Linked DNA regions of Homo sapiens: region 1 is linked to region 2. The links come from fine-mapping of genetic effects on gene expression. A gene starts in region 2. The other region holds a variant in brackets. All regions are shown on one strand. Distances are between the middles of the regions.

The links. PIP is the estimated chance that this variant, and not a neighbour inherited with it, causes the effect.
Region 1: its variant is the best candidate, but not a certain one, in a credible set for the expression of MC1R in whole blood (TOPMed, PIP 0.53).

Annotation. Positions count from the first base shown.
Region 1 is chr16:90,060,749-90,066,121 of GRCh38, reverse strand. It overlaps PRDM7 (PR/SET domain 7), which reads left to right. Exons shown (of 11, transcript NM_001098173.2): 6 at 2,354-2,510; 7 at 3,620-3,721; 8 at 3,930-4,201; 9 at 4,603-4,670. Among named protein-coding and RNA genes, the nearest start is that of PRDM7, 14 kb to the left of the region's middle. The variant T/C (reference allele first, on the strand shown) is at 2,391.
Region 2 is chr16:89,915,884-89,921,256 of GRCh38, reverse strand. MC1R (melanocortin 1 receptor) reads right to left here and starts at 2,395. Exons shown (of 1, transcript NM_002386.4): 1 at 285-2,395. The coding sequence starts at 1,998. The coding sequence ends at 1,045. LOC124903759 (keratin-associated protein 5-1-like) reads right to left here. Exons shown (of 4, transcript XM_047435031.1): 3 at 3,210-3,381; 4 at 2,287-2,406. The coding sequence ends at 2,302. RefSeq lists enhancers at 89-972, 973-1,856, 2,455-2,504, 1,857-2,740, 2,741-3,626 and a silencer at 1,674-1,955.

The sequences.
Region 1 (5,373 bases), 140 kb before region 2:
TAAGTAAAAATATATTCTTCTGGAACCAATTTCAAATGCTCATTCCTGTAGAAGGCAGTAACAGCTCCTTCCTCTGGGCTCCAATTAGGGAACTGTCATGTTATTTGGAATTATTTGTTTAGCCTGCCTGCTGCCTCTTCATTGTGAGCTCTTCAGGAGTCTAGTCCCTTCCTGATTCTTCTTAGAACTCCCAAGCCCAGCTCAGGGCCTCTGAGAGCCTCCTGAGTGTTTTCTGAATGATTGATTCCAAGCTTATGAATTAAACTATAAGTAACAGGGTCAAGGAATGCTGAAAATATCTTTGAGTTAGATTTCAACTGTAGAGATATATCAGGACTATGAGATAATTTTCGTTTGTTATTTTTCTACAGGGGCAGGGGGTAGTTTGAGACAGAGTCTGGCTCTTGCGCCAAGGCTGCAGTGCAATGGCTCAATCTCGGCTTACTGCAGCCTCCATCTCCTAGGTTAGTGTGATCCTCCTGCCTCAGCCTCCTGAGTAGCTGGGACCACAGGCATGCACCACCATGCCCAGCTAATTTTTATGTGTTTTGTACAGGCAGGGTTTTGCCGTGTAGCTCAGGCTGGTCTTGAACTCCTGGGCTCAAGCCATCCTACTACCTTGGCCTCCCAAAGTGCTGGGATTACAGATGTGAGCCACCGCACCCAGTCTGTGAGAAAAATTATTTTTTTCTTTTCTTTTCTTTTCTTTCTTTTTTTTTTTTTTTTTTCAGACAGAGTTTCACTCTTGTTACCCAGGCTGGAGTGCAGTGGCGCGATCTCGGCTCACTGCAACCTCCACCTCCTGGGTTCAAGTTGTTCTCCTGCCTCAGCCTCCCGAGTAGCTGGGATTACAGGCGCCCGCCACCACACCCGGCTAGTTTTTTGTATTTTTTGTAGAGACAGGGTTGGCCAGACTGGTCTCAAATTCCTGACCTCAGGTGATCTGCCTGCCTTGGCCTCCCAAAGTGCTGGGATTACAGGTGTGAGCCACTGTGCCTGGCGAGAATAATTATTAATCTCACATTCATACTGTATTAAGTAGCTCAAAAAACACTTTGGTGAACATTATTATCTTTCATGTTCACTACAATATTAAGAATTAGTGCCGGAGGCAGTGGCTCACACCTGTAATCCCAGCACTTTGAGAGGCAGAGGTGGGCAGATTACCTGAGGTCAGGAGTTCAAGACCAGCTTGGCCAACATGGTGAAACCCCATCTCTACTAAAACTACAAAAATCAGCTGGGCATGGTGGTGGACACCTGTAATCCCAACTACTCGGGAGGCTGAAGCAGGAGAATCGCTTGAACCTGGGAGATGGAGGCTGCAGTTAGCTGAGATCGTGCCACTGCACTCCAGCTTAGGCAACAGAGTGAGACTCCCTCTCAAAAAAAAAAAAGAATTAGCATGGGCTGGGTGCGGGGGCTCTTACATATAATCCCAGCACTTTGGGAGGCTGAGGTGGGTGGATCACTTGAGGTGAGGAGTTCTAGACCAGCCTGGCCAAACTAGCGAAACCCCGTCTCTAATAAATATACAAAAATTAGCTGGGTGTGGTGGCACGTGCCTGTAATCCTAGCTTCTCGGGAGGCTGAGGTAGGAAAATCTCTTGAACCTGGGAGGTGAAGGCTGCAGTGAGCTGAAATCATGCCACTGCATTCCAGCCTAGGCAACAGAGCAAGACTCCTTTTCAAAACAAAACAAAACAAAACAAAACAAAACCATGTATGCCAACTTCTGGATCGGGAAACTAAAGAGAAATTAGCTAACAATACACCCTTATTCAAGCAGACAAGTAGAATTGGTACAGGAACTAACTAATCTAATTCAAAAGCCAAATATTCTTTCCAGGATATGGCAACATGCAACTTTGACTTCACTTTCTTAGTTGTCTAGATATATTTTTGCCAATCATCTCTTTGTTCTGTTCCGAACCTTACTGCCCTATTACCTCATTTTCCAGATGTGCTTTGTCCCTCTGTGCTTTTCTACATTTCCCCTTCCATCAAAAGTCTACTAGTTTATGGAAGATTCCCTCCTTCTCTCTGTAAGCCCTCATCCCCTTCTTTCACAGATCTTGCTGATTCTCCAGCTAGTCTTCCCAAGTATTCTTCCTCCTTCCCTTTAACTTACACAGAACGTTTTGAGAGGAAGTTGAAGGAAAGAGCCTTAAGACATGGGTTAGAGTCCCAGATTCACTACCCACTTAGACCTTGTCTTTTCCCTCTAGTATTTAGACACTCTAGGTATTTCCAAGGTTTGAACATTAACTACAGTCATATGAAAACATGTTGCAAGCCGTAAAGAACTAAATAAATGCACGTTGTCTTTTAATATGTGATTCTCACATTAAAGGGAATGCCCAAGGCGTCATTCAATAATGAATCTAGTT[T/C]GAGAGAATTGTCAGGAACGCCAAATTTACTGAATACAAGTGACTCAGAGCAGGCTCAGAAACCAGTGTCCCCTCCTGGAGAAGCAAGTACCTCTGGACAGCACTCTAGACTAAAACTGGGTAAGAAAAAATTTGAGGGGAATTTAGTCCCTCTATGTCCTCTAGAAAGGTTGGTGAGTATGGTCTACCTATGTGGGGTGGACTTTGGATAGGCCTGGGCTTAAGCTGGACTCAACTGTGAGACCAGAAGTTAGATGCAGTATTTTGTTAAAATTATTTATTTATTTGTTCACTGAGACAGAGTCTTACTCTGTCACCCAGGCTGGAGTGCAATGGTGAGATCTCGGTTCACTGCAACCTCTGCCTCCACGAAAATAGCGATTTTCATGCCTCAGTCACCCGAGTAGCTGGGATTATAGGTGTGCACCACCGTGCCCGGCTGATTTTTAGTAGAGACAGAGTTTCACCATGTTGACCAGGCCGGTCTCAAACTCCTGGCCTCAAGTAATCTGCTCAGCTCAGCCTCCCAAAATGCTGGGATTACAGGCTTGAGCCACCATGCCTAGCCTTGGATACAGTATTGAATAGCATGTAAGATCATTAACTTTGAAGTCACTCACTTGGGTTATAATCCACACAGAAGCATTGGGGCCTTGGGCAAATCTTATAAATTCCATGGGCTCCTGAATGGTAATCTGTAAAATGAGACCAAGTATATAGAGCTCATGTATTGTTTGAAATCATTAAATTAAATATAAATGAATTCATACATGTGAGGTGTCCAATAAGTACCTCTCTGATAATATATATTCTTTTGTGCGTTTCTACATTTCCTTTTCCATCACATGTCAACTAGTACATAGAAGATCCCCTATAGAGACTATACTTTCTTAGTGTTGTATGTCCAGGCCTTTGTTCAATGCCTAAGATGTAATGAACTCTCAAAAAATATTTTCTGAATAAATAAATGCATGAATGAACCATTTTGTAAGCAGAAAGGCTGGGAGGTTAATGGGATAATGAGAACAGCTAGAAACTAAAATTGAATAGGCATCTACAGTCAGTGTGGGTGTGGGGTCTAAGTCTCTCTGAAGCAGTAAACAGAGGGAGACTAGAGTATGTAGAAAGGTAGATGCTAATTTGATGGTAGGAGATTTCACATTTTCTTATGAAACAAGGACAAACACCCCAGACTCCCAATTTTACCCATCTACTCTTCTCCAACCTAGAACTCAGGAGGAAGGAGACTGAAGGAAAGATGTATAGCCTGCGAGAAAGAAAGGGTCATGCATACAAAGAGATCAGCGAGCCACAGGATGATGACTACCTCTGTGAGTGACCCTTTCAGCCACTCACACAGCTTGCTGTTATGTCCTGGTACAATAATTTCATCATTTGGCCCACAAATCATTCCCTTACTCGAATGAATTAAAGTACAGGATTGGGGCTAAATAATGTGAGTGCCACGCTCTTTCTGAAGCTCTTATATCAAGGAACATGCATTACAACTTTCCTAATCCCTGCTTCCCTCACTTCCAGATTGTGAGATGTGTCAGAACTTCTTCATTGACAGCTGTGCTGCTCATGGGCCCCCTACATTTGTAAAGGACAGTGCAGTGGACAAGGGGCATCCCAACCGTTCAGCCCTCAGTCTGCCCCCGGGGCTGAGAATTGGGCCATCAGGCATCCCTCAGGCTGGGCTTGGAGTATGGAACGAGGCATCTGATCTGCCACTGGGTCTGCACTTTGGCCCCTATGAGGGCCGAATTACAGAAGACGAAGAGGCAGCCAACAGTGGATATTCCTGGCTAGTAAGAAGAGCCTGCTGTTTCCCCTGTTCTGTCTTCCCACATCCCTTCTGTGCCTTTGATGGGACATCACCTTCTACATGTTAGGATATAGGTAGGGATAACATGGTTAGCTCTGTGTACTCAAGGGTCTTTGCATGAACATGGAACTCCTATTTAGAGATCACAGGGTACATGGGAGCAGAGTGGTACAAAGACAAAGAAGTGCATCCTCCCTTTTGGAGCTTCTGCTCTGATTGGACAAACCAACTCAGATGTGTAGATGATGACTAAGGTGCATGCCATGTGGTCTCAGTTGGCAGTTGAAGCTCTGCAGGTCCAAAGGCCATTGATGACCGTGGAGTAAAATAATTCTTCGGATTTTTACCCTCTAAAAAGTCTTTACCTTATTTTTTGAAACTCAGATCACCAAGGGGAGAAACTGCTATGAGTATGTGGATGGAAAAGATAAATCCTCGGCCAACTGGATGAGGTAAGGCCACTAGGTCTCTTAGTTTCAGAGAGAACCTCCATCTCTCACAAACCCGGACTTCCTTCCTTCTCATTATGCCTCCCTCAATGATTTTCACATCCCCTATTTCTATTTTTCTCCATACAATGCTGTTTTATACCATCAACTTTTAGAAATAAAAAATAAAAATATAGATATTATGATTTATTGGTATCAAAACACAAATATGTATGCTAGACAAAATTGAGGCACCAAGATAAACCTTGATAAGGTTAATTCATGCTTTAATTTATGTAATCCACATTTGTTAAACACTTAGTATGTTCCAGGTTAGGAAGTGAAGTTCACTACTTGAACAGAAGTGAACTGCAGGATGACCCAGCCCCTTTCCACAATGGGCTGTCGTTCTATCAGAGAATAGAAAAATGAATCAACTATTACTGTTCTATGTTATTGGGCCAAGAGAAAGAGACTTCTGAGTTTCTCTAGGAATCTGAAGAAGTCAGGTGAATGGCAGCTGAGTGAACTGTAGGGTGATTAGAGGAAGGCCTGTCAAAGAAAGATGGACTTGAGCTGAGTGTAGAATGATGTGAGCTAATCTAGAAGCAGAGCAACGTGATCAAGCACCAAGTTCTGTGGTATAAAACAGAATTAATTTAGAGTTTAGAGAAGCTAGAGGTCAATGTGTTTTATGGCCAATCAAGGTGGAGGTAAGTCTGGAGTT
Region 2 (5,373 bases):
AAGAGTGGAGGGGACTGGGGCCCTGCTGCACCTGCTCGTCCTTCCTCTAGGCTGGGGTTTGTCAGCACGGAGAGAAAACCGAGAAGCAGGGTCAGCGCAAGCCTGGTTGGGACCTCCACACTCCCCAGGCATTTGGGGCCTCTGGGGCTGTGGCTTCCTCACCTGGGGAGGCAGCCACGTTTTCCGGGACTCCTTTCTTCCCTCTCGACTCTCACCCCTGCCCACCTTCCCCTCCCCCATCCCTCCACCCGCAAACTTCAAGCACTTTCTGGAAGGGGCTAAGGTGGGTGATGCTGAGTCACATTTATTACCAGACTTTCCTGGCCCCATGCTCACAGGCACTGGTCACTGAGTCAGGCATTTGCCAGGGCTGTCTGCTTGGGCGACTGCTGCAGGAAAGCAGGCTGAGGCCCCAGTGCCCAGTCTGAGCCTTAGAACCGGCCCTCAGGAGGGCTCAGCCCCATACCACTAGGGGGGCTCCTGCAAACCTGGTCCCTTGGCCTGAGGCAGGGATTTCACCTCCTTTTGCAGGAGCCGCTGCAAGGCTGTGGATGAAGCTTTCTGGTCACAAAGCCCCTTCTCCTGGGGCTGCTGTGGGAGTAGCTCTTGGCACACACTTCCACCCAGAGACTTCACATCCCAGCTGACGAGGGCACGGTCCTGAGAGCTGGCAGCAAAGATGGGGTGGGGTGGATGCTGCTCAGTCATTGGAGCAGACGGAGTGTCCCAGGAGTGGGCGGAAAATGTCTCTTTAGGAGCCTGAGGTTGGCCCCTGGTGCCCGGAGCCTGAGGCCCCACAACCTCCCCATGTCCTCCTCCGTTCCCCACGACTGCTGGTGAGAAGTCCTGCCTGGAGTTTTGCAGGGACCCCTCCCTGGACCCAGAAGGGTCCGCGCTTCAACACTTTCAGAGATCATTTAGTCCATCCTCTTTGACAAACGGGGACCAGGGAGGTAAGGAACTGCCCAGGGTCACACAGGAACCAGACCACACAATATCACCACCTCCCTCTGCCCAGCACACTTAAAGCCGCGTGCACCGCGCTCACCAGGAGCATGTCAGCACCTCCTTGAGCGTCCTGCGGAGCTCCTGGCTGTGGAAGGCGTAGATGAGGGGGTCGATGATGGCATTGCAGATGATGAGGGCGAGAAAGAGGTTGAAGTTCTTGAAGATGCAGCCGCACGTGGGGTGCTCGGGGCAGAGGACGATGAGTGTGAGATGCAGGAAGAAGGGGCCCCAGCAGAGGAAGAAAATGCCCAGCAGGATGGTGAGGGTGACAGCGCCTTTAAGGCCAAAGCCCTGGTGGACCGGGCGCTGCCTCTTGTGGAGCCGGGCGATGCCCTGGGCGTGCTGGCAGGCCCGGGCCAGCATGTGGACGTACAGCACGGCCATGAGCACCAGCATAGCCAGGAAGAAGACCACGAGGCACAGCAGGACGGCCACGTGGTCGTAGTAGGCGATGAAGAGCGTGCTGAAGACGACACTGGCCACCCAGATGGCCGCAACGGCTCGCCGCGCCCGCGGCAGGGTCACGATGCTGTGGTAGCGCAGTGCGTAGAAGATGGAGATGTAGCGGTCCACGGCGATGGCGCCCAGGAAGCAGAGGCTGGACAGCATGGAGCTGCAGGTGATCACGTCAATGACATTGTCCAGCTGCTGCAGCACCGCAGCCCGGGCCACCAGTGCACCGGCCTCCAGCAGGAGGATGACGGCCGTCTCCAGCACGTTGCTCCCGCTCACCAGCAGGTCCGACAAGGCCAGGCAGCAGATGAAGCAGTACATGGGTGAGTGCAGGTTCCGGTTCTTGGCGATGGTGGCCACCACCAGCGCGTTCTCCACCAAGCTCACCAGCCCCAGGCTGAGGAAGAGCCCGTCAGAGATGGACACCTCCAGGCACCGGGCTCCTGTCTGGTTGGCAGCCAGCCCCAGCTGGGGGATGGCTGTGGGGGTGGAGTTGAGGGAGCCCAGAAGTCTTCTCTGGGATCCCTGCACAGCCATAGTCCTGTCCAGGAAGCAGGAAGGAGTCGTTGGAGGCCTCCAGGTCCCCACAGTTCTTCCCCTCCAGGTGTCCTGCTTAGTTCATGGTGCTGCCAGGGGGCCTTGGGTGTCCCCCATGCCTGCCTCCTTCCATCTGGGCACCCCCAGATCTGCCCTCACACCCTCTCCCTGGCTGGACAGGTCAGCCCAGGCATGGCCCAGCCAGTCCAGACACCTCCTGGCATCTACCGCCTGGGCTCAGGGATTCTCACAACCAAGCCTGGTCCTCAGCTCCCTCCCTGCCTCTTCCCTGGTGGCTGCTGCTCAGGTCCCCAGGACATTTCGACACCTCTGGACCGTCCTGGCCTCTGTCTCCTGCCTTCCTGGGCCAGGGCTGCGCTGAGGTCCTGGGAAGAATGGAGCTTTTCTCTGCGTTTTAAAAAGTCGTTCTCAGAGCCCCTCCCACTGAGGGCGGCCACATGCCGGGGGCGTGAGCACCCACCATGGCCCGGCCTGCCACCAGGCGGCGTGCAGGACCCAGGGGGTCCCTCACACCGCGGATCTCCTTTACGTTAAAAAACACCACAGTCTGTCCTGGTCACCAGGGCCCCCACCTGGCCGCCCCTCTAGGAGTCCGGAGCTTCCCCGGGACCTGCCCTCTCCAGAGGCCCCACCCTTCACCCCTCCCCTCGTCAGCAGCTCAGGGAGGACAGGGGTCCCCTCTGCTCTCAGCCAAAGCACGCATGGAGCAGCAACTCAGCTGTCAACGTTCACGGCAGATTTGGGGGCTGGACCAGGGAGAACTTTCCAATAATTAAAGTTCTGGAAACTGAGTGAGCCCTGCAGGAGTTTGCACATCGCGCGGGGTGAGGGGGCTTCCGGCCAGGGCAGAGCGTGAAAGCGTCCAATGCTAGTGAGCCCTGGAGAGGTTGGTGTTTTCAGGCATCTTGTAGAGCCTGAGGCCACTCTGGCGCCTGCCCCCAAGGGCCCAGCCTCGCCCAGCCAGAGTGGCGACCCCCTCAGCTGCAGCCCTGGGGCTGTGGGGGTGTCGCTTCCTGGGAGCGGACCGGCTGGGGGCACCCTAGTGAGGTCTTCAGGGACCCTCCAGTCATCTCGTCGCTCATCCTCACAGGGGCACCCGGGACGCTGCTCCCGCCCTCCCCGGGCGGCGCGCCATTTCCGCTGCGGAAGGCACCACAGGCCCTGCACCAACAGCCACATCAAAGGCAGACCTCTCGCCTCCAGCCGTCGCACGTGGTGCTCCGCAGGCCGTTCACAGCAGTCGGGCGTGGCCCCGAAGCCCAGCAGGGACGGTGGAGAGGGGCCCTGGCACCCACTGCAGGCATCTTCCTGGGTTCACTCCAGGGCGTTCCCAGCACTTCCTTGCTGAAGACTGCGTCTGTGCTGAAGGGTGGAAGCGGGAGGGGGATGGAATTACTCGTCCCATTTACAGCTGCAGGAAAGGAGGCAACGGTGCAGGCACCGCATCAGGGTTTTCAGTTTTGTGTCTGCGATGTTCGAGTTAAAATCCATCCTGTCTCTCGCCCAACTGCCAAACTCTGACCATGAAATGCTCACACCACTCACAAGCCACCTCCATGTGTGTGAGGACATTAATATTTTTCATATTTACTGGTACAGTAAATACTTGTTACAACCGCATTTTACAATTTATAAATCTTTAGTTTTGCTTTAAAATTTTTTATTATTGTCAGCCATGGTGGCTCAGGGCTGTAATCCCAGCACTTTGGGAGCCCAAGGCGGGTGGATCACCTGAGGTCAGGAGTTCGAGACCAGCCTGGCCGACATGGAGAAACCCCGTCTCTACTAAAAATACCAAAATCAGCCAGGTGTGGTGGTGGGTGCCTGTAATCCCAGCTGAGTCAGGATAATAGCTTGAACATGAGAGGCGGAGGTTGCCGTGAGCCGAGATTGCACCATTGCACTCCAGCCTGGGCAACAAGAGCAAAACTCTGTCTCAAAAAAAAAAAAAATTATTATTGCCGGGCACAGTGGCTCACCCCTATAATCTCAGCACTTTGGGAGGCTGAGGCAGGCGGATCATGAGGTCAGGAGTTCAAGACCAGCTTGGGTAATATGGTGAAACTCCATCTCTACTAAAAATACAAAAATCAGCCAGGCGTGGTGGCGCACGCCTATAATCCCAGCTACTTGGGAGGCTGAGGCAGAATTGCTTGAACCCAGGAGGCGGAGGTTGCAGTGAGCCGAGATCACACCACTGCACTCCAGCCTGGGAAACAGAGATACAGTCTCAAAAAAAAAAAAATATATATATATATATATATACATATAATTTTTATGTATTTATTTATTTTGAGACAGTTTCACTCTGTCGCGCAGGCTGGAGTGTAGTGGTGCATTCTTGGCTCACTGCAACCTCCACCTTCTGGATTCAAGCAATACTTATGCCTCAGCCTCCCAACTAGCTGGGACTACGGCACCCACTACCACACCTGGCTATTTTTTGTATTTTTTGTAGAGATGAGGTTTCACCATGTTGACCAGGCTGGTCTTGAACTCCTGACCTCAGGTGATCGGTCCGCCTCAGCCTCCCAAAATGCTGAGATTACAGGGATGAGCCCCCACACCCCATCTGCTTTAATTTTTTTTTTTTTTTTTTTGAGACGAAGTCTCACTGTCACCCAGGCTGGAGTGCAGTGGCATGATCTTGGCTCACGGTAGCCTCTGCCTACTGGGTTCAAGTAATTCTCATACCTCAGCCTCCTGAGTAGCTGGAACTACAGGCGCGTGCCGCCACACCCGGCAAATTTTTGTATTTTTTTTAGTAGAGATGGGGTTTCACCATGTTGGCCAGGACGGTCTTGATCTCCTGACCTCATGATCCTCCCGCCTCCGCCTCCCACAGTGCTGGGATTACAGGCGTGAGCCACCGCGCCCGGCCCTAAAATGTTTTAATTGAGGTACAACATACATGAAAATGCACCAGTGATAAATATGCAGGTTGACGGATGACAGACCTGAACCAGCCACATAAGCAGCACCAGACCAACAGACACAGCGTTCCCACCCGGACGGCTCCAGCGAGCCGCTGCCAGCCCATCTGGCCCATCACGTGAATGGTGTCCCAGTTCACTCTCTCTGGCTGAGATTCGCCTATGCCGGTGGCTGTAACCGTCTGCCTCAGACCGTGGTGTCCACGGCGTGAACAGACCACGTCTGGGTGGCTTCAGACTCCCTATCAACGATACCGTCTGATGGACACAGGTGCGTCTGTGGATTGCCACCCGGGGGACATGGGCAGGGACCTCTCTTCAGCTTTGGGAGACTTGGTCAAACCATCTTCAAATCGGCAGGCCTGTTTCTGTTCACACACGCAGCCCCAGGCTGCTCAGAGGAGAGAGCGCGCCCTGCCCA